4 linked regions of the Homo sapiens genome follow. The protein of the gene in region 1 binds, or shares a complex with, the protein of each later gene. Each region holds a gene or a part of one and is shown in the gene's direction. Other genes may lie near its edges. The genes, in order: DRC9, DRC8, DRC3 and DRC4.

Region 1 (7,000 bases):
ACATTTCTGTTCTTTTAGGGGTAACCTTTAAATTTTTTGTTTCTAGAAAGTACACAAATATGGAATGCTTCACGAATCTGTGTGTCACTCTTGCGCAGGAGCCATGCTAATCATCTCTGTATTGTTCCAATTTTGGTATATATGTTACTGAAGTGAGCACAACTCTTAAAATGTTAACATATATTTTTATACTTTTAGAATTTCTCTGTCGAGAGTTAGTCAATGTTTATACCTTCTTTTGCCTTTATTAAGGCAAAGAGACTTCACTTACCTCTTCTCTCGCTCTTCATCCCATGTTGAAGTCATTCACTTTATATGTAAATATATATAGTGATAATATATATGCAGATATTATGTATATATATGCGCATTGTGGGTGGACTTCACAAGGATTATTTCAGCATCACAACAACCCTCTGAGGTTTGTACTATGACTGTAATAGTAATACTGTATTATTGGCTAGGTATAGAATTTTATATATGAGGGAACCAGAAGCTTAGAGAATTTAAGTAAACTTTCTTTCAGTGCCAGAGTTGTGCTCTTTCAACTAGACTATCCTGCCTACTTTGGGATTTTAATTCTGAATTATGATTTATGATTAAAAACTATCACATAGCTTAAATACATGTTTTACTGGTTCTCTTCCATTTCTTAATATATCTCTTTCATTTTATTTTGCTACAGTAGTACATCCTTGAATAACTCTCTCAGAAATATTGAGTATAGTCTTTCTTTCCTTTACATTTGAATGCTGGGTTGGCTATGTGTAGAATCTTTGATTCACATTCACTTGCTTTTCTTTCTTTTTCTTTTTTTTTGAGACGGAGTCTCACTCTGTCACCCAGGCTAGAGTGCTGTGGCGCAATCTTGGCTCACCGCAACCTCTGTCTCCCGGGTTCAAGAGATTCTCCTGCCTCAGCCTCCCGAGTAGCTGGGATTACAGGTGCCGGCTACCATGCCTGGCTTTTTTTTTTTTTTGTAGTTTTAGTAGAGGCAGGGTTTCACCGTGTTAGCCAGGATGGTCTCGATCTCCTGACTCTGTGATCTGCCCACCTCGGCCTCCCAAAGTGCTGGGATTCCAGACGTGAGCCACTGCGCCCGGCCCTACATTCATTTTCTTTTAGAATTTTGAATACATTGTATCCTTCTTGACTAGGATTTAGTGCTGTCAATCAAAGAGAGATCCGATGCTATTCCTTATCCTTCAGACTTTTCTACATACCTTTTGTTTCCTCTTCATTGCAACTTCCCTTATCCAGACATCTAGATTACCCTCCTCCCCCTATTTTTTTTTTTTTTTTTTTTTTTGAGACGGAGTTTTGCTATTATTGCCCAGGCTGGAGTGCAATGGCGCGATCTGGGCTTACCGCAACCTCCGCCTCCTGGGTTCAAGTGATTCTCCTGCCTCAGCCTCCCTAGTAGCTGGGATTACAGGTATGCGCCACCATGCCCAGCTAATTTTGTATTTTTAGTAGAGACGGGGCTTCTCCACGTTGGTCAGACTGGTCTCGAACTCCTGACCACAGGTGATCCGCCCACTTCAGCCTCCCAAAGTGCTGGGATTACAGGCGTGAGCCACCGCGCCTGGCCCCCTATTTTAAAATTCACTAACATACAAGTAAAATGTGTAAGTACTTAGTGTATAGTTTGATGAACAGTTATGTATACACATTCATGTAACCACCACCTGGATAAAGATACAGAGAACATTTACAGCATCCCAAAGTCCCCCTCACCCCCATTCCCAATCAGAAATCCAACTCTCCACCCAGGTAAGTAACTACTGTTCTGCCTTCTCTCACTATGGAATGTTCTGCTTAATCTTGAAACTCGTATAAGTGGAATCATACAGTATACAGCGTTTTGTGTCTGCTGAATGCCATGTTTTCATGTTCTTTCCAAATAGAAACTTGAGGAGAGGCTGGAGTTCTGGATGGAGAAATACGATAAGGACACAGAAATGAAACAGAATGAACTAAATGCTCTCAAAGCCACAAAGGCCAGTGACTTAGCACACCTTCAAGACCTGGCAAAGATGGTAAGGAAGGAATTAGGGCGCTCACTGAGGACAGAGTGAAAGGAATTAGGGTGCTCACTGAGGAGGGAGTGGAAGGAATTAGGGCACTCACTGAGGAGGGAGTGGAAGGAATCAGGGTGCTCACCGAGGAAGGAGTGGCAAATAGGCCACAGTAGCTGGGTATTGCTATTTGGGGTCAAAAGTAGAGGTGCGCTTATAAGCCACCAGGATTCTTTTTAGATGCTGCTGCTGCTGACGGGGACAGCTGCAGTAGCTAACTTACGTAGTGCCTACTCTGTCCAAGGTGCTACCCACACAGCCCCTTGAGACAGATACTGTGATTATTCTTAGTTTATGACCTCTGGAGAGAGTCAGTGATGATTTCTAACAAGCTTGTGATTATGGTTTCATTATGGAATAAATGCAGAACTTCCTAAATTTCTTTCAAAAGTCAGCTACTGCTGGGCATGGTGGCTAACGCCTATAATCCCAGCACTTTGGGAGGCCGAGGCGAGCAGATCAGTAGAGATCAGGAGTTTGAGACCAGCCTGGGTAACATGGCAAAACCCTATCTCTACTAAAAATACAAAAATTAGCCATGCATGGTGGCACGTGGCTGTAATTCCAGCTATTCAGGAGGCTGAGGCACAAGAATCACTTGAACCCAGAAGGCGGAGGTTGCAGTGAGCCAACACTGCGCCACTGCACTCCAGCCTGGGTGACAGACAGAGTGAGACTCTGTCTCAAAACAAACAAACAAACAAAAAAGACAGCTGACTACTTGTGTATGTACATTCTCCCAAAGTTTAAAAAACAATCCATATTATTTTGAGATCATTGATCACACATTAATTCATATTTCATTTTTTATAAAAGATAGAATTTAAATTTGAATTATTAAAACTGAAAAAGTTTTGGGAACAATTATAAAGTTAATATGTGAATATTTACCATCTAGGAATCTATTACATTTTTTTCTTTGGTTTATCTTTAGATTGAGCATGTTTTATTTTGAAATTTTATATTAAAAGTGCAGGGCTGGCTGGGCTACAGCTTAGCCAAGAGAGTACTATAATAAATGATGAATGTCTATCTTTGCAGATAAGAGAGTATGAACAGGTCATCATTGAAGATCGTATAGAAAAGGAGAGGAGCAAGAAGAAGGTAAAACAGGATCTCTTGGAATTAAAGAGCGTTATAAAGGTAAAGAACCATAATCAGTATCTCGCCACAGCTGGCTTAACACTGAGGAACACAAAAGCATTTCCAATTCATTATCAAACACATCTCAGTATATCAAGGAACTGCAGATCTGAGAAGAAGCATGGACTTTTGTTATTATTAGAATTTGCCAACAGTCCATGGTGCAGGGAGACAGTTAACATAGAAAAGGACGTGCCCCCAGCTCTTCATCTGGGGAAAAAGAGGTGGTTAGCAGCGGAAGCAAAACCTAGGCCAAGAGACGAAATATCAGATTACTATGTCTAACCAAAACCAGCTCTTGACAGAATGATTCTTTTTAATATCCTTCTACTTCTTAAAATCCTGCTTATACATCAGCCCAGACTATCTGCTGGGTTCTGATACAAGCTGCTTAGGTGGGAAGGATAAGCAGCAAGTTAGAAAAAAATAGAGATATTTTAGTTTTATGTGAACTTGTGTGTCTCAGTGATGATGAAACTGGCAGGTCACAGATCACGTGAAATACTCGCAAGCAAAAACTGAAAGCTGGACGGCACCTGTCTGGAGCTGGCCCTTCTCTCTGAAGGTCGAGGCCCTAGTGGGTACACTGTAGTTTGGGTTGTATATTAGGGTGATCTAAAATAGTTAAGTTTTATACCACATTCTGGACCAGGTATCCAGACCCAAAGTTGGGCTTCCCATAAGGAGTCAGATGTGTAAGTAGCAAGTATTTATCAAGTTTCAATGGTGTTTCCCCATAAAACTTGTCAGTATTCCTGAATTTACAACAAACATGTTAAGAACGAGCTGAAGAGCACGTTTGCTTTCTTTTCACTAGTGGATTTGCTTCCAGTCTTTAGGGTTTAGTCTGACTTTAAAGCAGTAGAGACCGTATTGAGAACAACTGTTATCTAAAACCAAGATATTCAAGAAAGCTAACTAAATCTTTTTTAAAAGTACTAGGACAACTGATCTTTTAAGCAATCACTAAAGATATGAAATGCACAAGCAAGCCTATGAAAGTCATCTAGACTTATCTGTGCTTTTCTTTTTTTTTTTTTTGAGACAGCATCTCACTTTGTCACTCAGGCTGGAGTGCAGTGGCGCAATCTCTGCTCACTGCAACCTCTGCTTCCCGGGCTCAAGAGATCCTCCTGCCTCAGCCTCCCAAACAGCTGGGACTATAGGCACAAGCCACCAGGCCTGACTAATTTTTTTTCTTTTTTGTATTTTTGTAGAGACAGGGTCTTGCCATGTTGCCCAGGCTGGTCTCAAACCCTTGAGCTCAAAGTGATCTGCCCACCTCAGCCTCCCAAAGTGCTGGGACTACAGGCATGAGCCACCGCACCTGGCATTATCTGTGCATTTTTGGCCGAGTGCTTTTGCCCTTGGCCCAGGTAACTAACATTCTTTTTGGTTCAAATAGCTGTTAAGTATGGGGAACCTGGACTTTCCTCAAGGAAAGCAGTATAAGGAAGTCAGATTTCTACGGGTGAAGAAAAAATAGGTCAAATCAGATTCCTTTTCTTTATTTTTACTTGAGAACTTCACTCTTGAGTCCATGGCTTAAGCTCCGGGTCCTGCACGACAGGAGAGCATCGCTGAAGTGATTACGTGCCTGGCTACTTCCATGTCCTGGAGAGAGACTGTTTGTCAGACAGAAGTTACTTTATTCAACAGTCCCTTTATGTGGAAAGAATGCAGCTTGTCAGGCATAGCATACGTCGTACTCACTCCCCTTTTCTCTTCCAGCTCCAGGCCTGGTGGCGAGGCACTATGATACGGAGAGAAATTGGTGGTTTCAAGATGCCTAAAGACAAAGTTGATAGCAAGGATTCAAAAGGCAAAGGTAAAGGCAAGGATAAGAGGAGAGGCAAGAAGAAGTGACCAAGTTCTCTTTTGTGTTTTCTGCTGGTATTCTGGAGGTGGGAAGGACTTGGAGAGAGTTAAGAAACACCTGGTACCTCAAAGATGACTCATCTACAGGTTGTTTCCTATTGAGACTTTCCCAGGGAAGCCTGATTTCACTTTGCCTGTTAATTTCACTCTGCCTGTTAGGTGGGTTTTCAAACCCTGATTTAGGATTACACCATTGACTTAGGGCTTCCTCATACCTTGCTGGGAAGAAGTTTCTAGTAGTCCTGTGAAGATTCATTCTTCTTGCTCTTTCTCAGCAGAACAAAGGAGTTCACTGGCTTAGCTACAGTGACGCATTGAAACTTGAGTAATTCCTGTAATGTCAGATTTTGATTTTACCCAATTTGTCTGTAGTGAAAAAACTCTTATGAGCAAAAGTATTCAGTAGGAATTACAATATGATGTTATTAGCTGTCCAGCATAATATATACACAGCAAAGTTTTAATAAATGTTGGTTCCTGCCTGCCTTTTAGATTTATCGTCACTTTGGTGTTTTTATTCAGGTGAAAATGGCATGGAATACATATCCAGTTGTAAGCTGCTTCAGCAACTTTTCTAGGAAACAGGGATACAAATTATAAATACAAGCTAGAAATAGGATGTTAGGATATACAACTTTACAAACTATAAAGATGGGGACACAGGTTCTCTGGAAGGCTAGTTTGGAGATATTTTTGACAAGTGAAACACTAGAGCCACCAATCCCCACTTTATGGAGTGTTAAGATGAAAAGAAATCAGGTGTGTGAAAATATCTAACTTGTGCCTGGCAAATAGGAAAGCTGTCACTCTCCCTCTTCTCCTAGAAAAAAAATGCACCCACCAGATCATGCTTGCCTTGATGAGTCAAAACAATGCCTTGGGATGCTAAAGGTTTCCAAGAGCAAAGTTGTCCTAATGTGTCACATACATTTCATGAATTAAGCCTTCTATCTAACTCCAAATAAAGCTCAGTCTTGATATCTGTACTTCCTTAAAAAATGAATTTGATCTCAAAAGTTTGTCCCGAAGCCCCCATTTCCACTGACATTCCCTCTGGAAATGAGATGCTCTTTCCTTGATTCACCTTTGCCAAGGGAACCACACCTCAGGTATGAACACGCTCCAATCAGCTTTTATTACACGCCACTGAAGTGTTGGCTTTTATTTGAATGTCAATGTGTAAAGTGGCGTACAGGCAATTTAAAATAACATACATGATACTGACATATTTATACTTAGAACTTATGCAATATATTTACAGACAAAAATACAGGACAATGTTTTACAAAATCTTTCACTAATTACATGTTTACAACATTTTCAGAAATAAAACGAAATTTGCTGTAAACCATCTCAACTGCACTGTGTATATAGAAAGGCTTCTAAATATCCATGTTTTCATTTCTATAACCATTTAAGCGCTTAGTTTTTACGAATTCATCAAACTCATTCGCATAGTCACACATCATTAGTCACTGCTGAGCTGTAGAAAGTAAGAGAAATCGCAAACTCCTTGATTAGCTGTATTTTAAAAAGCTCTTCAGAAAAGTGATCTACTACTATGCTCTGTGTTCTAGCAGAATACAAAGGCCCCTCTTTCCATGGGTCGTTTCCAGACCTGGCTATTACAAGAGAACACTGGAGTGCTAAACACAGATTATGAGTCTGAAATACTGGGAAACTGCTGACAGAAAATCTCTGTACGTGGCAAGGGCTCTGCTGGGGGTGGCTCTCAACCCGACACTGTCAGTGATGGGAAGGGCTCTGCTAGGGGGGGCTCTCAGCCCCAGACACTGTCAGTGATGGGAAGGGCTCTGCTGGGGGGCTCTCAGCCCCAGACACTGTCAGTGATGGGAAGGGCTCTGCTGGGGGGCTCTCAGCCCCCAACACTGTCAGTGATG
Region 2 (5,241 bases), on another chromosome or scaffold:
TGAGACGGATCCGGTCTTGCTCTGTCACCCAGGCTGGAGTGCAGTGGCGCGATCTTAGCTCACTGCAACCTCCGCCTCCTGGGTTCAAGTGATTCTCCTGCCTCAGCCTCCCGAGTAGCTGGGATTACAGGCACAGGCCACTGCGCCCAGCTAATTTTTTGTATTTTTAGTAGAGATGGGTTTCACCATGTTGGCCAGGCTGGTCTCGAACTTCTGACCTCAGGTGATCCACCCATCTTGGCTTCCCACAGTGCTGGTAAAAATTCCCTTTTAAAGAGCTTTTCTGTCAGTGAAGTTACAGATAATGTAGCCTCAATTGAATACTGAGGTCATTTTTAACACTAAAAATGTCCTTTTTTAATGTTAATTGAACCATATATATTTGTTTTGAACATGGCCCATCATACATATATGCATACACACACATAAAACCTGCACACTTATATATATATGCCAACATATTTCCTTTAGGAATTCTCTCTGCTAGGCTGATGTGTAAATTTGTTTACACTGAAGGTCAGTAGCCTGATGGACAGTCTCCTGAAACCATCCTCATATTGGTCCCCTTGCCTTCTCCCATACAAAGCTAGAGCTCTCTGGTTCACAGACTGGGTCCTGAATGACTCAGAGTTGCTAATCACTTGAGGCAGAATGAAAAGCGCAAGTGATTTTGAGTAGGGAAGACTAAGACTGCATCTACACGCACAACTGGTTTGACCATTCCAGCTTCATCCACCTTAAGGCGGAATACAGAGAGTGAGGGTCAGAATGGCAAGGCCGTCACAGCTGCCACCCAAGAACTCTGACGCCATTGTTAAAATTACCTTCGGGATTAATTCTGATGGGGATGTTACGACTTTCAAAGCATCAGCTTCTTCATCCTGAGGATTAGTCTAAAGAAAGTAAATCCTAGGTTATATATCAGGCAACATGAATTTAGTCAAAATGGCCCAAACAGTTAGATTTTCCTACTGTTGTGTGCCTACTATATGTTTAATATTTAGTAAGTGTAGTAAGGTATAATGATACTTAAATCTACTTCCTCTCTCAAGGATATTACAATCTTATTTGGGAAATAAAACTAACATAAAATAATTCACAATACAAGACAATAGAAAGCTAAATATCAGAAGATCAACTAGGGCTGGCCCAGCCTGGAAAACTTGGTTTGGGAAGACTTAAAGAGAAAATAGGTTTTTTGAGATGGTAGAATGTATATGGTTAAATTGTTGAGGGCAAAGGTAAACTCTTGTGCATTATAATTCTGTCACACATGGTAGATATCAACAAATGTTTGTTGAATGAATGAGTGAATGAGTAGATGATGAAGACCAGGTGAAGGGGCTAATGAGAGGGAGACATTATCGATGTGTAAAACAGTCTGAACAAAAATGGGGAGGTAGGAATGAACATGCTATTTCAGAGAGAAAATAAGCCTAGCTGGCCCAGAGGGTAATGTTGGCAAACAGCAGGAAATTAACTTCAGTAGACTTACTGGGACTAAATTGTGGAGTCCCAGGCTCAGGAGTTTGGAATTCATCCTGTGGGCGATGGAGAAGTATTACAGGCTTTTGAGCAGATGACTCACATGGTGTGTGAGTGATTGTGAGAAGGTTTTTCTGGTGCTGGTCGGTTTGTTAGATGCATAAGAAAGAGGTTGGACTAGGGAGGCCACTTAGAAGGTTATTTCAGCATTTTGAGGGCACCCAAATAAGGGCCTGACCTGGCAGTGGGAATGGCAATGGGAAGAAGGGATTGGTACAATAGGACTGTCTGTGGCAGGATCCATGGGTCATGATGAGTAACAGAGTGTAGGCGACAAAGCTGAGAGCTGAATCCAAAGTACCACCAAGGCTTTGCCCTCGATGGCGAGTATGATGGTAATGAGACTGACTCAAACAGAAAGGTCAGAACAGACCGCAGTGTATACAGAGACAGTGCGACCACGTGGTTTACTTGGAGGTGCTGTGTGATAATTTCGAAAATGGTATGTTTACAGAGAGTTCATGGTACTTAAAGATCAACTATTGAGTATCTCAGCGGACTAAGCATAGGACAGGTATGGTCAAATAAGAATACATATGTTTTCAATTATTCACTCAGCAAGTATTATTACAAACCTTCCACATATATGAACCAATATGTTTGGAAGTAATATGTAAGATGTAAATCTATACAAATCTAAGTTACGATTTAATATAACAGACCCATCAGCTAAGTGTAATAGCAGTTGACTAGTTTGGTAAAATAGGAGCTTAAGAATTGCTGCTTTGAGAGTCTCAGAATTCTACAAATTGTTTTTAAGTACATTTATGCTATATAACAATATGGATTCAAGCTACTTGCACATTCATCCTAATATCCACAAAGTATCAAACACACTAGTTTGAGAATATGCATTCCTACAGCCCTGGATGTCATATGATAAAATAAATCACACTGAATCAAGTTCCTACAAGATAGAAGTCCCTAAGTGTCCAGGAATGTGTATTGCATCAGACAGTGTTTAGCAGCCGGGAAGATCTCAGAACAATTTTTTAAACAAACACTTGCATGTTGCTGCTTCTATGCCAGGTACTGTTCTAAGTCCCATTCAAATCATAACACGTTTCATTCTCATGACAACCCTATGTGACAGGTGGTGTCGTTATCACCCCCATTCTAGAGACAGGTAAGCTAAGGTGGGGAGCTGTGAAGTGACTTGCTCAAGATCTCAGAGCTCGTGAGAGGCAGCCAGCATGTGGATCCAAACTTGTGCTTTAACCACTCAGTTATCTTCCTTCCATCTTTCATCAAATACTGGGGCTTCAAGTTAATCCTCTGGTAATTTCAAAAGTTTTAATCTAAATAAATAACCTTGTTCATGATGTCTGTATGTCTTCCTACTGTTTTGCCTGAAATGACGTGTTCTAGAGGTTGCTTGATCTATGACATCTGCAGGCTAAAAGAAGTCCAGAATCTACCAGGGTGTACAATAGCCTTGTCTTTGAACCTCTGGACTGTCGTGATGTCCTGGCTCTACAGCTCCAGGGAGCGTAACTAGTGGCACTGTGGGAGCTTGTGGGGCTCCATGGCTATTAAGCTGGCTAGTGGAAAGAGAAAAAAATCAGATGATCCTAAATGATAAATTTTCCTTTTTGTCTCTCTGAGGTGAGCCTTTTTCTCAAGAGGAAATGGAAGAAATGTTGTCTGCTGCAATTGATCCAGAATCAAATTCAATTAATTACAAGGACTATATAACAATGATGGTGATAGATGAAAATTAAATGTTCTAAAGATAATTTCTGATTGAAAGAACAATTTTAGAAATTGCTTGTTCTTGTTAATTTCACATCTTATCTTAGGATTCCTATATGTGATATTTAATACCTTGTGACATAACTATTTTAAGACACTTTGTTTTTAAAGATGATCGTAACACTTTAAACCAAATTTAGTATGTCTAGCCTTACAGAATGATAAATTACTATTTATTTAAAAACTATTCTTAAAACATTTTAACATTAGAATGGATTGTTGTTTATTTTCTACAATAAAACTCAGGTCACCTTCGAATTAATTAAGCTGACAAAATGAAAATGACTTAATTACCCAAGGTTTGGCATGTAAAGATCTTAAGAGGGGGCAGAACGAACCACTCGAAAACGAGTAGCAGTGTAATGAAGGCTTCTTTTTTAAACAATAACAAATGCTTCATCAATCTGAGTGTGGAAGGTGATTTATCAAAATAAATATTACTAATTTATTTTTTTATGAGTGCCAATTACAAATATCATTTGGGATAATAATAACTTAGTGTAAACATTTATATTTGCTGATCCAGCATGTCACCATTTATGGAGTAGCTAAAGGAGTTGAGATCATTGGAACTAGAGAAAAGAAGGTTGAGTGGAAGTTGATAGTGTAAGGTAGTGGCAATTCTCCCTTTGTCTTTAGAATTCTCACCCACTCCGCATATCTGTCATGGGAGCATTGTCCTGAATACTGAGTAAGAATACTGAGAAATGTTATGGTGTGCAAATGTACAGCTCCTGAAAGAGCAGAATGAAGCACAAGCAGTCACAATGGAAAAATATATGGCATGGCCACTGCCTCCTCCTTGCAATTCTCTCCGATCTTGGCATCTTATATGGCAACTATATGGCAACTTACAAGCAAAGGGGAAGATAAAGTAAAGGGAAGTGAACAATTTTCCAAACTTAGATATTCTGTTATAACAAGACACACACACACACACACACACACACACACACACGGGTCTCTATTTGAAGATGGCTTCACCACTATATGTGTGTATCTACATAGATGTAAACATTTAGAGTTGCTGTGAGCCTTCCTCAGGCATGTAGTCTTGCCCCCAAAAGAGGCGGCTGCTACCCAAGAGACTGTCGCTGTTCATTCATTCATGAAACACTGAAGGAGTACCATGAGATGATGTGCTGGGAACCGGAGTCCCTAACGAATCCAGGTCACAGTTTAGTGAGGGAAGCCTGCAAGGCAGTCAGCAGCCACATTTCAGATAGGGGCATGTTCAGGGTCCCGTGCAAGTGCCGAAGAGAGGCAGCTACTCAGCCTTGCAGGGAGAGAGCTTTCTGGAAGATGAAAGGTGCTAGTGAGCGGAGAAGGCTTCCCAGGACAGGAAGCTCCTGACTTTAAAACGAGTAGTTTAGTAAGTGGGTGGCGGGGCACAGGGCATTTCAGCAGGTGAGCAGCAAGTCCAGAAACCCTAGAGGTGTCATGAAACATGGAACCACCTGGGAATTGAAAGCAGCTCAGTATATTTGGAATGTGGGAGATTTGGGGGTCATGATGAGAGGTGAAATTGGAGTGGTAAACAGGAGCGGTATCATTAAGGATATCGGGTTAGGTGCTGAGTTAAGGTTTCAGTGTGAGAGTTTGGACTTTATTCTGAAGATCACAGAGAAAGATCATTTGTAAGCAGCATGGAAAATAGATTTGAAAGGTCAAGACTAGAAGTGAGACCAGTTTGTAGGCTATTTGGTTGGTGGGAGGGGATAGACTGGGAAAAGTCAAGCATGAATCCCAGGTTTCTGGCTCGGACGATGGGTAAAAGTGCCATTCATTCAGATAAGAAGTCCAAGGAGCAAGTGGGGCATTTGGTAAGCAAAATGATGAGGTTGGGTGCAGACACCTTGGGACACCCAAAGGGTGACATTCAATAATCAATTGGATATAGGAGGGAGATCTGGCTGGAGACCTGGATTTTGGAACTGTCAGCAT
Region 3 (8,555 bases), on another chromosome or scaffold:
TGGTCTTGAACTCCTAACCTCAGGTGATCCACCCGCCACGGCCTCCCAAAGTGCTGGATTACAGGTGTGAGCCACCGCACCTGTCCAGCTTACTCTCTCCCTAAACCATGCTTTCTACTCAGGAACTGCCCTCCAGAATAAAGGGCGGGATGGATGCAAGAAATGCACAGTTAACTATGTCAGACTGTGGTCTTAGCCGCTAACTTGAGATGAACACGCTAAGTGTTCTACTAAATCGTACCAGGTTAGAATGTTCACATGAGGCCCACGCATAAGACAGAGTAAGAATTACTCCACCAACCGCTCAGACAGACCCAGGACACCTTTTGTGAGCATGTTACCTCTACCGAAGGCTCCCTAAGAGCAGCTTGTTAATATTTGTATCCCCAGAGCCTGGCACAGGCCTGGCCCCCCACAGGCACTCATAACTGCCTACTGAAGTGAACAGACAAAATTATTTAGGTGTAAGCCCCATGCAGCTGTTGAGAAGTATTATTTTATAAGCAGGGAAAATTAGGTCCAAAGAGACTAAAAGTTGAAGTCAGTTAAAGAACGTAGTCTTTGGGCCGGGCGCAATGGCTCACTCCTATAATCCTAGCACTTTGGGAGGCCAAGGAGGGTGGATCACGAGGTCAGGAGTTCAAGACCAGCCTGGCCAAGGTAGTGAAACCTTGTCTCTACTAAAAATACAAAAATTAGCCCGGCACGGTGCCAGGCACCAGTAATCCCAGCTACTTGGGAGGCTGAGACAGGAGAATCGCTTGAACTTGTGGGGCGGAGGTTGCAGTGAGCTTAGATCGTGCCACTGCACTCCAGCCTGGGTGATGAAGTGAGACTCCATCTCAAAAAAAAAAAAAAAAAGAATGTAGTCTTTGATGCCACCCATCCAGAGCAGGGCTTCCTCCTGTGCCCAAACCCTACTTGCCACCACTCCCCACAGCCACCTCTGCTCCATTCAGACTGGTACTCACAGATGTGCCTGTGCCCCACTCCCTGCCTCATTCAGCTGTCCCTAGGCCCAATGATATTGTTTTCTGCATGCAGAGTTCCTACCCATCCTTTATGAACAGCCCTCAGACTCAAAGAAGCCAGTCCCTGTCACCCCAGCCTCTTCTGAATTGTTTCTGACTCCTTCAGCACTTACAATCTACACCACTCATTGTTTCATGCATCTCTGTCTTCTCTCCTGAAACCGTAAATCCATTGAGGACAGGGATCAGAGAGGGACCAGCTCTCCTTTTTTTTTTTTTTTTGGAGACAGAGTCTCACTCTGTCGCCCAGGCTGGAGCGCGGTGGCACAATCTTGGCTCACTGCAACCTCTGCCTCCCAGGTTCAAGCGATTCTCCTGTCTCAGCCTCCTGAATAGCTGGGATTACAGGCGCCCACCACCACACCCGGCTCATTTTTGTATTACTAGTAGAGACAGGGTTTCACCATATTGGTCAGGCTGGCCTCCAACTCCTGACCTCAAGTGATCCACCACCTTGGCCTCCCAAAGTGCTGGGATTACAGGCATGAGCCACCACAACCAGCCTACAGCTGCTGTTTTTAATCATTAGCTTTGTAGTTGTTATTTTATTTCTGTATTCCCCCTCCCTCCCACCAATCCCCCACCCCCGCACATTCTTTTAAAAGAATACTAACAACACTAAATATCAAGAAAGTCACTTTGACACTTTGTCACAACAGTACGGAATATACATTAGAACCTAATTCTGTCCATTAATCATTTACCTGAACTGAACTGAAATGACCTATTGGCTACCTGGCAGTGGGGAGCCATCATCATCTTTAGTCAAGCATCTTATGAGCAATGGTGAATCCTGGGGCCTGGTAGGGTATTTTCCTTCACAGGTCACAGACGGGCCAGTTGTTTCACATATCCTCTCCAGATAGAAAATCCAACCCTAACTTAAATATTCTGTTATTAACAGTGGCAGTTTCAATTTACTGAGCTTCTACTATGTTCCAGATACTATGCTAAGTGTTTTCATACATTATCTCATTTAAACTACATTACTCTGTGAATAGGAATCTTTCTCTCTCTCTCTCTCTCTCTCAGAAGACTGACAAACTAAACCTCAGAAAGCAACACAATTTTCTGGGGTCACACAGCCAAGAAATGGGGGCCAGGTCAAAATTCAACTTAGGTCTCCCTGACAGAAGTATCAAGCTCTTTCCACTTGCTATATATCCCTATATCTCTTATATTTGGTTTTTTGTTGTTGTTGTTGTTGTTTGTTTGTTTTTTGAGACAGAGTCTCACTCTGTCGCCCAGGCTGGAGTGCAGTGGCACAATCTCAGCTCACTGCAAACTCCGCCTCCCGGGTTCAAGCAATTCTCCTGCCTCAGCCTCCCGAGTAGCTGGGACTACAGGCGCATGCCACCACGCCTGGCTAATTTTCTTTTTTTTTTTGGATTTTTAGTAGAGACGGGGTTTCACCGTGTTAGCCAAGATGGTCTCGATCTCCTGACCTTGTGATCCGCCCGCCTCAACCTCCCAAAGTGCTGAGATTACAGGCGTGAGCCACCGCACCCAACCACATTTGTATTTTAAATCCCCTTTAACTTCTACCCCTCATTTACTACCTTGTCATTTTAAAGGTGTAGAGCTTCCTATTATAAAGGGGACAGAAAGGAAAACAATTCTCGCAAGTTTTCTGGCTCCCTCCATTAACTGGCTGGAAATTAGTTTTTGGAGTGTGGCTGCCATGCAAGAGCACCTGAAGAGAGTGGAAAAGGACATGGGGAAGAAGTAAGGAAGTGAGAATCCAGAGACTCTCCAGTGGGCAGCAAGAGACAAGATGTCAAAAAGGTGGGAAAACACTCTTTTGGGGTCCCTCATGCATTATAAAAGATACTACGCCAGAAAGTAAAGAAAGGCTCCTAAATGCTAATTAGCCAACAGGAGAGACCTCAATAAGTTTATAGGCTCCACTAAAGGCTGGAAAGTAAGCTAAAATTTCATAAGCAAAGCAGAAAATAAACAAATCACTACTGCTGAAATCAGGCCCATAAGAACACCAAAGATCCTGGCTCATAAAAGACGTTTTACCAGTCCTTCAACCAACCAGGAGGAATCCAGTTTTCAAACAAACTAATCAGCATTCTTGACTGATCAAGTGGCATAAGCCACTGCCTTGGGTAAAAAGGCAAGTTGCTTTCTTAGTAAGGAAGTCCCATATGGTGGCCATTTCAGTATTCCTTTACCTACACTTTGGGCTTTCCTTATCCATGATTCTGGCCATCTCTGGTGTCCCCAGGTGTCCACATCCCCCCTATAGGATTAACAGATAATGCTGAGTACCATTCTCTCTACATTGCCAACAAAAGATTTCAGCTTTGGTAAACTTAATATGAGGTGGGGGAGGAAGCAACAGTCAATGTGCAGAGTACTACAAAGAATATCAAAACTTGAGAACTTTAAGGGATCTATCACATCTCATCTCCAAACACTTTGACAGACAGGGGAACTTCAAACCAGAAAGGGCACAAGGTCATATGGAGTCACTGACAAAACCACTGCTAGAGTCCAGGCTTCCATGATTCCCAGTCCAGGGCTCTTATCATTAAATAACACAGCCTCCCTTCTTTCCTGGGAGGCACTGCAGGCATGCCATCCCCCTGCCAAGATAATCACCCTCCAAGAGCCCCTCCTCCTATCCCAGTCCCTCCTACAGCACAGCTGAGTTGCAGCTCAAATTAGCAAGTCCCGGAGCAGGGGGCATTTCTGGGAGGGTGCCCAGTCTGAGGGTTGCTGGTACCGAAGAGGAGGGACAAAGATGGAGAAGAAGGTGACATCCCACAAAGGGTTTGGGAGAACTGGGTCCTTGGGGCAGTGGCAGTGAGCCTGCTGGGCTGGATAAAGACACATGCAGTGGCATCTCCCAAAGCGCATTGGGGAAGCAGACCAGCAGTTGGCACCACCTCTAGCAGCAAAAGGAAGGGCTGAGCCTTGATGGGCAGGGAAGCCTGGGGCATCTCCGAGTCCAAGTTGGGCCTCAGGGGTGCCTCCTGGCAGAGTGGCACTGGCGCGCCCGTGAGGTGGCACCAGTGCCCGGGAGGAGGCCCGAGGACACAGATGCCCTGCCTGCCCGTGGGATAGCACCGGCACCCGGCGAAGGCCCAGCCCCCCCGGGAGGTGGCACCGGCGCCCGGCGAACGCCCGACGACCAGGATGCCCAACCCGCCCGTGAGGTGGCACCGACGCCCAGTGAAGGCCAGACGACCAGGATGCCCAGCCCGCCCGTGAGGTGGCACAAGCGCCCGGCAAAGGCCCGACGACCAGGATGCCCAGCCCGCTCGTGGAGTGGCACCCGCGGCTGGCGGAGGCCCAGCCCGCTCGTGAAGTGGCACCGGCGCCCGGCGGAGGCCCGCGGTCCTCACCAGCCGGATCAGCGGCCGCCGTTGCCCAGCCTCCTGCCCCACACGCGGCCTTACCGAGGCACTGCCCCACTGGTGTGCTGAACGGGTTCCCCAGGAGGAACTCCATCTTGGGTGGACAACACGCAGCGGCCCGGGCCCCCTGTCTGCCACCTAGGCCTCCGCTGTAACCCGCCGGACTCCCGTCCTGACTGACACTTGCCCCCTCCCCACTCTCTGGAACGCCGAGCTTAGGGCCTTTGGCCCCGCCCCCTTGCCGCGTCTCTATTGGGGGACACCTACGAAGCCCGCCTCCTATTGGTCGTTACACCTCTGTCAGCAAAGCCCCCACCCACCCCGCAGCGTCCGATTGGGCGGAGGAGCGAGCTAGGTCACCGGAGTCCCTGTCAGCCGTGGCGGCACCTCCCCTGGCCCGCCCCCAAAGGGGAAGCTGCGCATTTTGATTCCTCTGTATATTGGTCAATCTAAAGGATTCTTACTATTATTGGACAAAAGACGAGTCAATCACGCAAATGGACGGAACAGAGGTGAATCTAGGAATATCCCCGCCCATAGAAAGTACTGATTGGAGAAACATTTGTTTTCTCTACGGCTGGTTGGTGTAAGGAGTGTTTCACCACACGGAGATGTGGTCACGTGACTTGTCAACTTTCACCCAGGATGTCTCCCTTCTGACTTCCCCTTAGCAACCAAGTCGCGGCGCTTGGTTCCCCAGCAACCGGGAGACGCGTCTGCTGCGTGGAACCGCCGAGTTCCCAGCGCTTGAGAAGGTGAGACCTGGGAGCTGAGGCTCCCGGAGGACTTGCAGGGACAGATAGTGCCCGACGTAACTCTTTCCTGTGACCTTTTTCTCGGAGAACGCCGGCCCGGCCCTTCTCATTTATAAAATGAGCACGTAGGTCCTCTCCCAGCCACTTTACAGTCGTGTGAGACAGCCAAGACACTTTAGTCCTGGGCTTGTCAAGCTTTTGAATAAAAAAAAAAAAAAATACTAAGGAAGCATTTCCCGAGGGAGCAGGGCCAGAATGGATTTTTAAGGGGTTCCGTCTTCCAGCCTCCTTTCATAGAAAGAGAGGTACCCGGTCCACTGATAACTTTTCCCAGAATTTAGCCATCATAACTGACCTCATAACTATCAAATGATTTCATCTTGGTACTGTATATACCGCTTTGGATGTGAATACGGCTACTCAAGTTCTGTATCCGTCTCTGTCAGTAACTCATTGTACGACTTTGGACAAGTTCCTTTACCTCCCTGGAGCCTCAGGTTCCCTAGCTGGGAAATAAGGGCATTAGGACTCCCTTTTTATGGCCTCCGGAGCTTACATGTACTTAAATAATGCATGTGCACTGAGCACACAGTAAGCATTCAGTAAGTGATTGATTTTATTCTTTTTTAAGAAAAATTTTGTTCATTATTTATTTATTTATTTATTTTTTATTTTTAAAAATGGAGACAGGGTCTTCCTATGTTGCCCGGGCTGGTCTTGAACTCCTGAACTCAAGCAGTCCTTCCACCTCGGCCTCCCAAAGAGCTGGGATTACAGGTGTAAGCCATCTCGCCCAACCAATTTTCTCCTTATTAATTCATGGCCAATAGGGACTATAGTTTTCAGATCCTGTTGACTTCAGGTTATCATTTCCCAGGAAAATTCTGGATCTGTTATCTGTGAGGAGGCCACTCCGTTGACAGTTGTGTAAAACTCTGCTGCTTTCCCCAGCTCCAACCTCTCTGGTCTTCAACAACACTATCATCAGGCAAGTCAAAGGGGACCCAGGTTGGGTGGTAAACTATAAGATCCCCATAGAAGAGGACTGTTTGGGCCTTGGCCCTGAACCCAGGACAACTGTGAGAAACACTGTGAGCTGTGGCAATGATAGTCCCCAGTACCCTGGATACAGTTGAGTCATGATTAGGAAAATGAACTCTGCCACGTGCTAAGTGTATGAAGTTGGGCATGTTAATTAACCTTTTTAACTAGCTTCTGTTTTCTTATCTGGATATTGGTGAGTATTAGCCCTACATGTAAATTAAGTTTCTAGAAATTTCTCCCATCTACATCTTGCTAACACCCTGGTCATCTCTCACCTCAGTACTTTTGCAATTCTCAGTACTGTTGCTAGAGTGAGCTTCTTAAAAACTAAGATCTGATCACATTGCTTCCCTTATTTTTTTTATTTTTTGAGATGGAGTTTCGCTCTTGTTGCCCAGGCTGGAGTGCAATGGCACGATCTCGGCTCACCGCAACCTCCGCCTCCCGGTTTCAAGCGATTCTCCTGCCTCAGCCTCCAGGGTAGCTGGGACTACAGGCATGCACCACCATGCCCAGCTAATGTTGCTGCCCTTATTAAGCCCTAGGTGCTTTCCAGGGATTCTAGGATAATAACAAAACTCCCACAGACCTCTCCAAACTTGCATCACTTCAGCCAAAGTGCAACAAGTCTGTTCTCTCCCACCTAAAGGGCCTTTCCACAAAGTTACCTCCTCCTTCTTTCCTGCTTGTCCTTCCAATCAGCCCTGTCTTCCTTGGCCAGGCCAGGTGCCCCTAATGTACAATTTCATAGTTCCCTACACCTACAAATTGTCATGGTTTGTAGTTAAATATTTGTATTATTGTTTGATTCATGCCTGAAGCTGGGTTAAAGTCCGTCTGTTTTATTCACAGCATATAGCAGTTACTCACTACCCATGTGTGGACTAAATACGTGATCTCACACAAATGCAGAAGGGAGAAATTATCCACCTTTTACAGATGGGAAAGCCAAGGCTTAGATAGGTGAAGTGAGTTGCCAAAAGATGCACAGTCAGGATCCAAATCCTGCTCTGATGTGCTTAACAAATAGCATATGTAATAACAATCCCCCATTTCCTAGCATAGCAATTGCTGGGCTTGACTGAAAGCAAACTTGATCTGTCACAGGTACCAGGCCCTGATGAAGTAGGAGGGATAAGTCAGTTAAAGTTTTGAAATCAAAATTAAGAGTCATTTCCCAAAGTATAGCACCTTTTTTTTTTTTTTTTTCTTGATGGAGTCTCGCTCTATCACCAGGCTAGAGTGCAGTGGTGCACGATCTCGGCTCACTGCAACCTCCAACTCCCTGGTTCAAGCGATTCTCCTGCCTCAGCCTGTCAAGTAGCTGGGATTACAGACATGCGCCACCATGCCCAGCTAATTTTTGTATTTTTAATAAAGTCAGGGTTTCACCATGTTGGCCAGGATGGTCTTGATCTCCTGACCTTGTGATCCGCCCACCTCGGCCTCCCAAAGTGCTGGGATTACAAGTGTGAGCCACCGCGCCTGACCTCCCCACCCCCCCCCCAAAAAAAAGGCCAAACACTTTGCAGAAAACATCAGCCAAATATAACACATTAAAATTCCCCCAAAGACAAGTTGATGACAAGTTATGGGAAACCGCAGGGGAAGCCATTGCATAAGAGTGGGGAGCTAGAGAGAGGCCGAGGTCTGGAACTGTCTTTGGGGGTAGAATCAGTCACCCCAACGAGGTGGAGCCAGTGTGAACAGATTGGAGAGAGTGGGAGGAAAAGGACCAAGGTCTTGGGAGGACGGAAGGCACAGGTGGAGAAGGGGTAGGGGTTGAAGGGTGTGGAGGCTATGCCTCCCCTGGAAGCAAGAGAGAAGTGTGCACAAGAGCTCATTGGGACATTTGATGAGGGACAGTTCAGGGCAGAGGATGCATATTTGCAGAAGCTGCATCCAAGTGGATGGTCAGGGAGGCAAGAGGAGGGCAGTCTTAGAGGGAAGTCTCTAAGACCAGGTAACAGGATTGTATGGCCCAACCTGGCTTTTCAGCAGACACCATCAGCCCTGCACCAGGAGTTTCTCCAGCAGTGCCCAGTGGAATGAAAAACAGAGCACAGGGGCTGCCTAGCATCAGGGACCAGCAGGGCAGAAGGACAGGAGGTTCAGGGAGGCCCAGATGCTGGGAAGGCATGTAGACAAAGATAGGAAGTAGGGCCAGCAGGGAGGCAAGAATCAGGGGTGGAAAGTGGGGGAAAATATCCCTCCTGGATGTCCTCACCAAGAGGGTTGATAAGGATGAGAATGTGGTCCAGCCACGAACGGCAGCCTGGAGTCAGCCTCACATTGTGACTGACCAAATCTACAGATCCCCCCTGTGCTGTGGTGTCTCAGTCAAATCCCTCTGGACC
Region 4 (8,675 bases), on another chromosome or scaffold:
GATCTCATGAGGTTCCACAAAGTAGGCATCACTGGCCACTTTGCAGACAAGGAAACAGGAGTTGGTGTCAAGAGCGTGAGCCCTCAGAGGACAGGGCCCTGTCTTCCCACTAACTCCCCACCCCAGGCAGGGTACTGCACAGAGCTGCGACCTGTAGGTAAATACCTGTGCACTGATTGAGTCAGGTGTCTGAAGCCCCCAGCCAGTGACTGATGGGCTCAGAAACTGAACCTGCTTTCTCTGCCTTTTAAGCTGCTGGGAAGTCCTCCTTTTTTCCCAAAGGAGGAGGGAAAACATATTAACCTCCACTCCCAAATGCCTTGGGCTCCCACAGCCCTGCAGGGGAAGCAGAACTGTCTCCACTGACAGAAATGGAAATTGAGGCTCACAGGGGCCTGACTGCCCACAGTTCACAGCTGGAAACAGCTCGGAGACCCCCAAGCCCTCACTCCCAACCTCCAGGCTTCCTATGTCCACAAAGCTGCTACTGGGAATACCCAGGAGCCTGGGACTATCAGTGTTAAGAAAGAGCTCTGGTCCCTCCCACAAATGACAAATCAAAACCCAAACCCACCAGCCCTGGGGCATTTGTCCCTATACCTTGGACTGCAGATACACAGGGTGGGTGGACCTGCTCCTCCCGGGGACAGCCCTTCGGGCTCCAGAGGATGCCACTGTGTGCGGCTGGGGGACTGAGAGGTTCCCATGTAGTTCCAGAGCGGCAGGCTGGCCTGCCTGTGCCCTCAGGCACCTGCTGGCTCCCTGGAATGGGAGCTCTAGGAAACCAGGAGGTGGTGGGCTTGGCTGGGCAGGTGGAGGAGTCTGCAGTTTGCATCCAAGTTCCTACCTAGGCAAATGGAACCCCGAAAGCCCTTTTGGAAAAGTCTCTGATCGGGAAGGGGGGAGGTTCTGAGAGCTTTCTTCCCGTTACCGACTCCAAGGTCCTGCAGTAGGGCCTCCACCATCAGGGCAGGGAGCGCTCCACGCGCACCTACCCTCCCCGATGAGCGTGCGCCTGGGCCACTCCCGGACCAGCCACCCTTGCAGCTCTGGAGTCCCCGGCAGGCCGCGCCCGTGCATGCCCCACATCCCCAAGACCCATCTCAGCCCCTCGCCCCTGGCAGGATCCCTGCCCGCGAGTCTACGGCCCTCGCCCCCCGGGACTCGCGGCTGGGCGAACAAAGCGGACGCGCTTGCAAGCGGCCAGCGTCGCCCTCACGCCCCACCGACAGGGACCCCAAACTCCAGCCCCGGAACCCCCCTCCCCCGCTCCCCGGGTCACCGGCTGGCTTGGCTGGGAGGGGGCTCAGGACGAAACTCCGGGCCACCCACCAAGGAGCGTGCCGGGCACGGCTTCCCGGGCCGGGAGCGCAGAGAACAAGGGGGCGGAGACTCGGTCCGTGTGCCCCCAGCCCCGCGCGGGGACCGCGCCCGGGAGGTGCCCCTGGCCCGCCGGACGACCCCGAGCTGCCAAAGGGGTCTTCGCGACTCCCGGGAGCGGCGAAGGGTGAGCCCTGGGGGGAGGGGCTGCGGCTCGCTGCGGGGAAGCGCTGCGCGGGGGTCTCGGGGGCTGGGGCTGAACTCACCTCCGGTGCCGGCGCCCTCCGGGGGCTCCATGCGGCCGGTGCGGTCTGGGAGGGGCACGGGCGACGGCGGCGTCGCCTGGCCCGGGCGCCCCAACAGCTGCGGCAGCGACTCGGCCCCGGCTCCGGGCGCAGCGCATCGGGGCAGCAACCGGGGGGCCGCGGCGGCAGGGAGGAGCCCGCGGGGCGGGGCGGGGCGCGCAGCTGCTCCCGGGCCCCGGCCCCCTCCCGGCGCCCCCCCAGCCGCAGGACAGGTGCGGCCCCGCCCCGGCCCGCGCGCGCCCCCTGCTGGCCCCTGGCCCAGCGGACCCCTCCCCCGCCGACCCTTCCCTCGCGGGCCGCGCCCCGCCGCGGACACCACCGGGACCTGGCTGCGCCCTCCCGACCCCGGCCGGGCGTCCGGGGCTCCTGCGCACTCACTTGGCGGCCGCGCCCGCTGGCGTCCTCTTGTTCTCTTCCAGGTACTTGCGTGTGGGGCGCCGACTGTGTGCGGGCGCCCCTCGGGGCTGGCGAGGGGCACAGGAGGGGCCTGACTCGCGCTGGGTAATGACAGACTCACAGAGCGCCCTGGATGGCGCGAATTAACGCGGGGGGCGGGTGGGGGCGAGGGCGTGTGCTTGGGAGGCTGGAAGGGGCGGGATGGGGGATGGGAGGTAAGGAGAGGGCGGCGGGCCCGGGCTGCAGAGAGCGCCAAGGCAGTTTCGATGAAACTGACCCCCATGTCCCTATCGCCCAGATTCAGCGATTGCCAGCTCCTGGCCTGGGCCACTGCTTCTCTGTCCTCATTCACTTCCCTCCACTGCTGGGTCATTTTGAAGCAAATTATATACACATTAGATCATTGCATTTGTAAGTACTTCAATATTTATCTCTCAAAGAAAGTCCGTTTGCAGGAGCATTGACTCATGCCTGTAATCCCAGCCCTTTGGGAGGCTGAGGTGGGAGCACAGCTTGAGCTCAGGAGTCCAAGGCTGCCGTGAGCTATGATTGTATGTCTCAAAAAAAAAAAAGAAAAGAAAAGAAAAGAAAAAGTCTAGTCTTCATAAACACTCTTGTTAACCCAGCATCCAGGCCTTCACTGAGTTGATGCCGTGGCCTGAGGCGGTTTACCTGGTGGATAGTGGGTGGCAGGAAGCATCAGACATCAGACAGAGGGCAGTCGGTTTGTTTGTATTAACATTTGCTCTGGGATTTTGCAGGAAACTCAGATGCCATTTATCTGGGTTTCTGAGCTGCACAGCTTGACACTGAATGAAAGTATCTTAAGCCACATATGTGAAGAAAAGGCTCTTTTCTAAAAATCTGAACTCGAATTCAATATGAAAAGAACAGGTCGCAGTGGGCCCTGTCGGGATCCCAGGGAGCCGCAATTCAGGGCTCCCTGAATGATTCATCTCTGCAGCCCACACCGACAGACCAGGATTGCTCTTAGCTTGTGAAAAATGAGTACCCTGTCTAGGCTATCCTGAGCTAACCCTCCTATTCTTGCCCTTTTTGCTGAAAGGAATTATTGTTAATACAGCTATTTAATTCAGGACACTCATCCAGACTTCTGAAGCAAAAAGCCAATCAGCATGAAGCTGCTAGCATATTGGTTTTGTGAAGTAAGTGTTAAATTATAATAATTACCCCCACTGTGCTCTCCAGCGTCACTGTCTGACCACCCTGTCCCAGGGGGAGGAGGCCCCTCTCAGGCCAAGGGAGTCTGGCACAGTGATGCTGGCTCCTGGTTGCCCAGGCACAGTGACCAGCCAGACTTCACAGAGGCCTCAGGGCTTACTATAAATAAATCACTGCTTTGTGCAAGCTGAGCCAATGCAGTTCTTCCAACTGGCTGCTCCTCTCCAAGAACAATCAGGACTTAGGTGGGCAAACAGGAAGTCTCTCATCACAGTGGTTCTCAGATTCCCACCACTGTGTGGGTGCCTGAGGCCTGAGCAAACCCAGCTCATGTGGCAACTTCCTCCCCCAGCTGGACAGGAAGACCTAGGTCCACCAGGCCTTCTTTCATTTCTCACACTTTGCCCCCAGCACAACTTTCTACGAGCATGGATTCTGTACTCTTCATCCCCAGACACATGGGAGAACAAGATCTGCTACAAGACCTTTTCTTTTTTTTTTTGAGACAGGGTCTCAGGTCTCATTCTGTTACCTAGGCTGGAGTGAAGTGGTGTGATCTTGGCTCACTGCAACCTCCACCTCCAGGGCTCAAACGATTCTCCCACCTCAACCTCCCAAGTAGATGACCACTTTTTAAGAAGATGTTAAAGATGAGAGCTTAGGGCTGGGCGTGGGGCTCACGTGCTCCCAGCACTTTGGGAGGCCGAGGCAGGAGGATCACTTGAGGCCAGGAGTTTGAGACCACTCTGGGCAATAAAGCAAGACCCCGTCTCTATTAAAAACTTAAAAAAAAAAGCTGGGTATGGTGTCTCACACCTGTAGTCCTGGCTTCTCAGGAGGCTGAGGTGGGAGGATTGCTTGAGCCCAGGAGGTCGAGGCTGCAGTGAGTTGTGATCACAGCCTAGGCGACAGAAGGAGACCCTGTCTCCAAAAAAAAAAAAAAAAAAAAGCACCTGTTTATGACAAACTCAGCTTTCTGGGTGACATAGATGGTTGTATGTAGGTAACAGGGTGGTTTCACGGATGGCAGATTCATTTTAGAAATTGTAAAATGGCTAGCAGTTTTCAGAACAAGAGATTAGTTAGAAAAGGAAAGTGGCAGCTGTTTGTTTTCTGCAGGGCCTGTCGGGAAGCCTCTGGTTTCTTTTCATCCGTGAGGAGTGGGGAGGAGGCCTCTTCAGGAAGAGCAGTTTATTTTTGTGAAAGGAATACTTACTGATTTCAAACATTTGGAACTAAACTGGAACGTATTTTTCTTTCCGATTTCTGCGTTTTTGAGGTGTGTGTAAACCCACCAGCGCAGCAGCTGGGAGGGCCCTTCAAAGGTGGGCGGGTGGGGTGAGTGAGGCCCAGGGGATAGAGTGTTTGCCCAGATTTGAATCTCATTTGGGGAAAGTTTCAGAGGCTTGGGTGGCTGATTGATCATTCCTTCAATGGTCCTTCATCAGCACGTCTTTACTGAGCACGTGCTGTGTGCTGTTCTAGGCGCTGAAGGATAGAAGTGAAGGGTTCCCCCCTCGTGGAGCTTAGGTTCCAGCAATAAGCAAAACATGCCCTGCAGCGAAAGGCTTCTGGGCTGCCGGCGACATTTTCCCAACGTTCACAACCGGGTTCCTTCCGGACGCCCGTCTCTAGGGACGCACTCCCGCCTTTGGCAGGGCCGCTGCCCGGCGGAGTCTCGCGAGGATCTTGTGACTTATCGCGGCATCGCCCAGCGGTTGCCGGGAAACGGCGTGGCTTCCGGGGGCGGGCGCCCTGGTCCCGGAGTCGCCGCTGGGCCTGTCCGCTGGCGTCATGGTGAGCAGGGGCGGGAGCGGGGCTGGGGTCCTCGGCAGGGGCCCGGAGACCTCGGGGCAGGGAGGCCTCGGTACACGGAGACCCTGGGAATGGGAGGCCTGGAGCGCTGGGTTTCTGGAATTGAGAGCTCGGTGCTCTTGTGGGGGTCTCCGTGGGGCAAACTCAGGATGCTCCCGGCCCCGGGGCCTGGCAGCACTCGGGACTGAGACCTGGGCTGTCCAGAGCCCTGTGCTCACAGGGGTGGTCATAGAACGCCCAGGGCCCGGGGTCGGCGGCGCACGGTCCCCAGAAGAGTGAACATGCGTCAAGGGGACTCTCATCCTGGAATGGCAGACTCGGTCTGTTGGATCCCTGGGACCTAGGGTTTCAGCTCACGAGGCTTTGCAGAGCACCAGGGTCCCCATGGAATAGAGCCGGAGGCAGGAATTACCCTAAGACCTTTGGTCTCCCGGATGGAGAGCCTGGGGCACACCAGAGTGGCTAGAGATCCCTCTACACCAAGGAGGCCCGGACAGGTCCAGTGCCCTTGGAGTGCCCAGGGCACAACCTTGGGATACAGGAACCACTGTTCCCTTGGAAAGCCTGGCAGGAGTCAGGCCCAGACCGAGAAGAGGAAGGCGGAGCTCGTGGCCTCATCAGCTCCATGTCTGTCTTTCTCTTGTAAAGGGCTCTCCCTTTGTGGTACAGGAATTGTCAGTAACTCAATTTCTGGGCAGGTGTGGCAGGGTGGGTTTCAGCTGGTGGGGGGAGGAAAGCTCTGGGAGCCCCACCAAGTCCCTGCAGCTGGCTGTGAAGGTCCCAAATGCTAAGTAATGCTGAACCTTCCTCCACTGCCTTCAGGGCTTTGTGATGAGGTAGCCTTCTTGGAGTGGAGGGATTAAAAAGAGAGCAGTACATTACGAATTAAATTTAAGTAGATGGGTTTTCTGACCCAGGAAGGGTCTTCTGAAAACCGACTATGAAAGAAACTACCAAACTAGGCCAGGAGTCTGGGCGCGGTGGCTCACGCCTGTAATCCCATCACTTTGGGAGGCCGAGGCAGGCGGATCATGAGGTCAGGAGATCCAGACCATCCTGGCCAACATGGTGAAAATCCATATCTATTAAACATACAAAAATTAGCTGGGTGTGGTGGCGTGTGCCTGTAGTTCCAGCTACTCGGGAGGCTGAGGCAGGAGAATCACTTGGACCTGGGAGGCGGAGGTTGCAGCGAGCCGAGATCGCACCACCGCACTCCAGCCTGGCAACACGTCTCTTAAAAAAAAAAAAAAAAAGCAGGGTGTAGTGGCTGACGCCTGTAAACCCAGCACTTTAGGAGTCCAAGGTGGGTGGATCACTTGAGGCCAGGAGTTGGAGACCAGCCTGGCCAACATGGTGAAACCCTGTCTTTACTAAAAATACACACACACACACACTCACACACACACACACACAAAATTAGCCGGGTGTGGTGGTACGCACCTATAGTCCCAGCTACTTGGGAGGCTGAGGCAGGAGAATTTCTTGAACCTGGAAGGTAGAGGTTGTGTAGTGGGATTTTTAAGGAATTAGAGAGACCGATGGGGTTCAGGAGGATATTTATTAATTATTTAGGTGCACCGGCCCAGTCAGATTAAAATCCAAAGGACTGAGCCCTGAACAAAGAGTTAAGTTACCTTTTAAGCTTTTCGTGGGGCAGAGGGAGATCTGTGCAGGGGGAAGCATGCTTCAGATGTGAGAAATAAAGGCAGTTGTTCAGTTGAAACATGCATTACATCATTTCTTACTTTTTAAGGAAAAACATGTTTTGCGACTTGAGTTTATCTGCCTAGTGACCTTGCAGCCGCACAGCTACAGAATCAGGGTCTTCACAATGCCTGGGAAGGGAGGAGAGACAAGGCTCACTAGCCGCAGAAAAACAGGCAGTTAATTTTTAAAGGACTCCAGCTCTTTCTCTTTTTCAGGGGGAGTTGGGTTTTCTTATATATAACTGAGTTTCTGCTTACACACTTTTTAATTTCTTTTAATTCCTGTTCCAGTTGCAGTGAGCCAGGATTGCACCACTGCACTCCAGCCTGGGTGACAGAGCAAGACTCCATCTCAAAAAAAACAAAAACAAAAACAAAAAACAAAAAAATGCAACAGCAAACACAACAGCAAACACTAAACACAACCAAACTACTTCTGTTTCTGTTAGGTTGTGGGAATATGGGCCTTGGTCTGTTGGATCCTTGGACCAAGGAATATGGGTGATATTTCTGTTTTCTTCTCATCAGTGTTTTCTAAAATTTCCACATAATATTTTCTCTCTCTCTTTTTTTTTTTTTTTTTGAGGTAGAGTCTTACCCTGTCACCCAGGCTGGAGTGCAGTGGCATGATCTTGGCTCACTGCAACCTCTGCCACCTGGGTTCAAGCGATTCTCCTGCCTCGGCCTCCCGAGTACCTGGGACTACAGGTGCCCGCCACCACGCCTGGCTAATTTTTTTGTATTTTTAGTAGAGACAGGGTTTCACCATGTTGGCCAGGCTGGTCTTGAACTGCTGACCTCAAGTGATCCGCCCGCCTCAGCCTCCCAAAGTGCTGGGATGACAGGTGTGAGCCACTGTGCCTGGCTCCACCTAATGTTTTCATTCAGGACTAAATGAAACATAAATGAAGATAAATGGGCCAGTCGCGGTGGCTCACGCCTGTAATCCCAGCACTTTGGGAGGCTTAGGTGGGCAGATCACGGGTCAGGAGTTCGAGTACAGCCTGGCCAACATAGTGAAACCCCGTCTCTACTAAAAATACAAAAAATTAGCCGGACGTGGTGGTGGGCACCTGTAATCCCAGCTACTCAGGAGGCTGAGGCAGGAGAATGGCTTGAATCCGGGAGGCGGAGGTTGCAGTGAGCTGAGATCGCACCATTGCACTCCAGCCTGGGCAACAGAGCAAGACTCTGTCTCAAAAAAAAAAAAAAAAAAAAAAAAGAGAGTTCAAGACCAGCCTGGCCAACATGGTGAAACCTCGTCTCTACTAAAATACAAAAAAAAATTAGCCAGGCGTGGTGGCGGGCACCTGTAGTCCCAGCTCCTCGTGGAGGCTGAGGCAGGAGAATTGTTTGAACCCAAGAGGTGGAGGTTGCAGTGAGCCAAGGCAGCCTGGATGACGAGGGAGACTCCATCTCAAAAAAAAAAAAAAAAAGATAAATGGATTTAGGTTTTAATGTTTTTAAAAAATAAATAAAATTTCCACATGAAATTTGTAATTTTAAAAACGTTACATAGCTGGGCACAGCAGCAGTGAACTCCTGTGGTCCCAGCTCCTTGGGAGGCTGAGGTGGGAGTATCAGTTGAGCCCAGGAATTGGAGTCTGCAGTGAGCTATGTGATCACACCACTGCACTCCAGCTTGGGCGACAGAGCAAGACTTTGTCTTTAAAAAAGGTTACCGAGACATGTAGACACAGAAAAGCATGGGCTGAAGACTACTGGGAGTAGCAAAGTCAGCAGGATAGGATATGGAAATTTGTTACCTGCTTGAGTGCCCTGTAAATGGGTGGCCAGACAGAACTGCTCCTGGTGTCATGCGTGGTTTCAGCAACTTCCACAAGGGGGTGGGGTTAGAAGGTTCTCTCCCATCCTTGTCAAAGTTGCTAAAACCACGCACGACGCCATGTGCAGTTCCGTCTGGCAGCCCATTTACAGGGCTCTCGTG

Evidence for each region.
Region 2: DRC9 (region 1) and DRC8 share a complex: the UniProt entries of both Homo sapiens proteins name them as parts of the nexin-dynein regulatory complex.
Region 3: DRC9 (region 1) and DRC3 share a complex: the UniProt entries of both Homo sapiens proteins name them as parts of the nexin-dynein regulatory complex.
Region 4: DRC9 (region 1) and DRC4 share a complex: the UniProt entries of both Homo sapiens proteins name them as parts of the nexin-dynein regulatory complex.

What each region holds. Positions count from the first base shown.
Region 1 is NC_000003.12:197,887,667-197,894,666, reverse strand, and holds the end of DRC9 (dynein regulatory complex protein 9), read left to right. Parts: intron 1-1,907; coding exon 1,908-2,039; intron 2,040-3,119; coding exon 3,120-3,221; intron 3,222-4,952; coding exon 4,953-5,087; 3' UTR 5,088-5,590; downstream 5,591-7,000. UniProt on the Homo sapiens protein: Component of the nexin-dynein regulatory complex (N-DRC), a key regulator of ciliary/flagellar motility which maintains the alignment and integrity of the distal axoneme and regulates microtubule sliding in motile axonemes.
Region 2 is NC_000001.11:245,084,095-245,089,335, forward strand, and holds the end of DRC8 (dynein regulatory complex protein 8), read left to right. Parts: exon of another isoform or gene 1-2,665; coding exon of another isoform or gene 2,666-2,700; exon of another isoform or gene 2,701-3,150; coding exon 3,151-3,266; 3' UTR 3,267-3,743; downstream 3,744-5,241. UniProt on the Homo sapiens protein: Component of the nexin-dynein regulatory complex (N-DRC), a key regulator of ciliary/flagellar motility which maintains the alignment and integrity of the distal axoneme and regulates microtubule sliding in motile axonemes.
Region 3 is NC_000017.11:17,967,821-17,976,375, forward strand, and holds the start of DRC3 (dynein regulatory complex subunit 3), read left to right. Parts: upstream 1-5,041; 5' UTR 5,042-5,154; exon of another isoform or gene 5,155-5,279; intron 5,280-5,844; exon of another isoform or gene 5,845-5,933; intron 5,934-6,031; 5' UTR 6,032-6,142; intron 6,143-8,555. Other genes in the region: TOM1L2 (TOM1-like protein 2), read right to left, coding at 4,442-4,493. UniProt on the Homo sapiens protein: Component of the nexin-dynein regulatory complex (N-DRC) a key regulator of ciliary/flagellar motility which maintains the alignment and integrity of the distal axoneme and regulates microtubule sliding in motile axonemes.
Region 4 is NC_000016.10:90,017,725-90,026,399, forward strand, and holds the start of DRC4 (dynein regulatory complex subunit 4), read left to right. Parts: upstream 1-4,955; 5' UTR 4,956-4,997; coding exon 4,998-5,000; intron 5,001-8,675. UniProt on the Homo sapiens protein: Component of the nexin-dynein regulatory complex (N-DRC), a key regulator of ciliary/flagellar motility which maintains the alignment and integrity of the distal axoneme and regulates microtubule sliding in motile axonemes.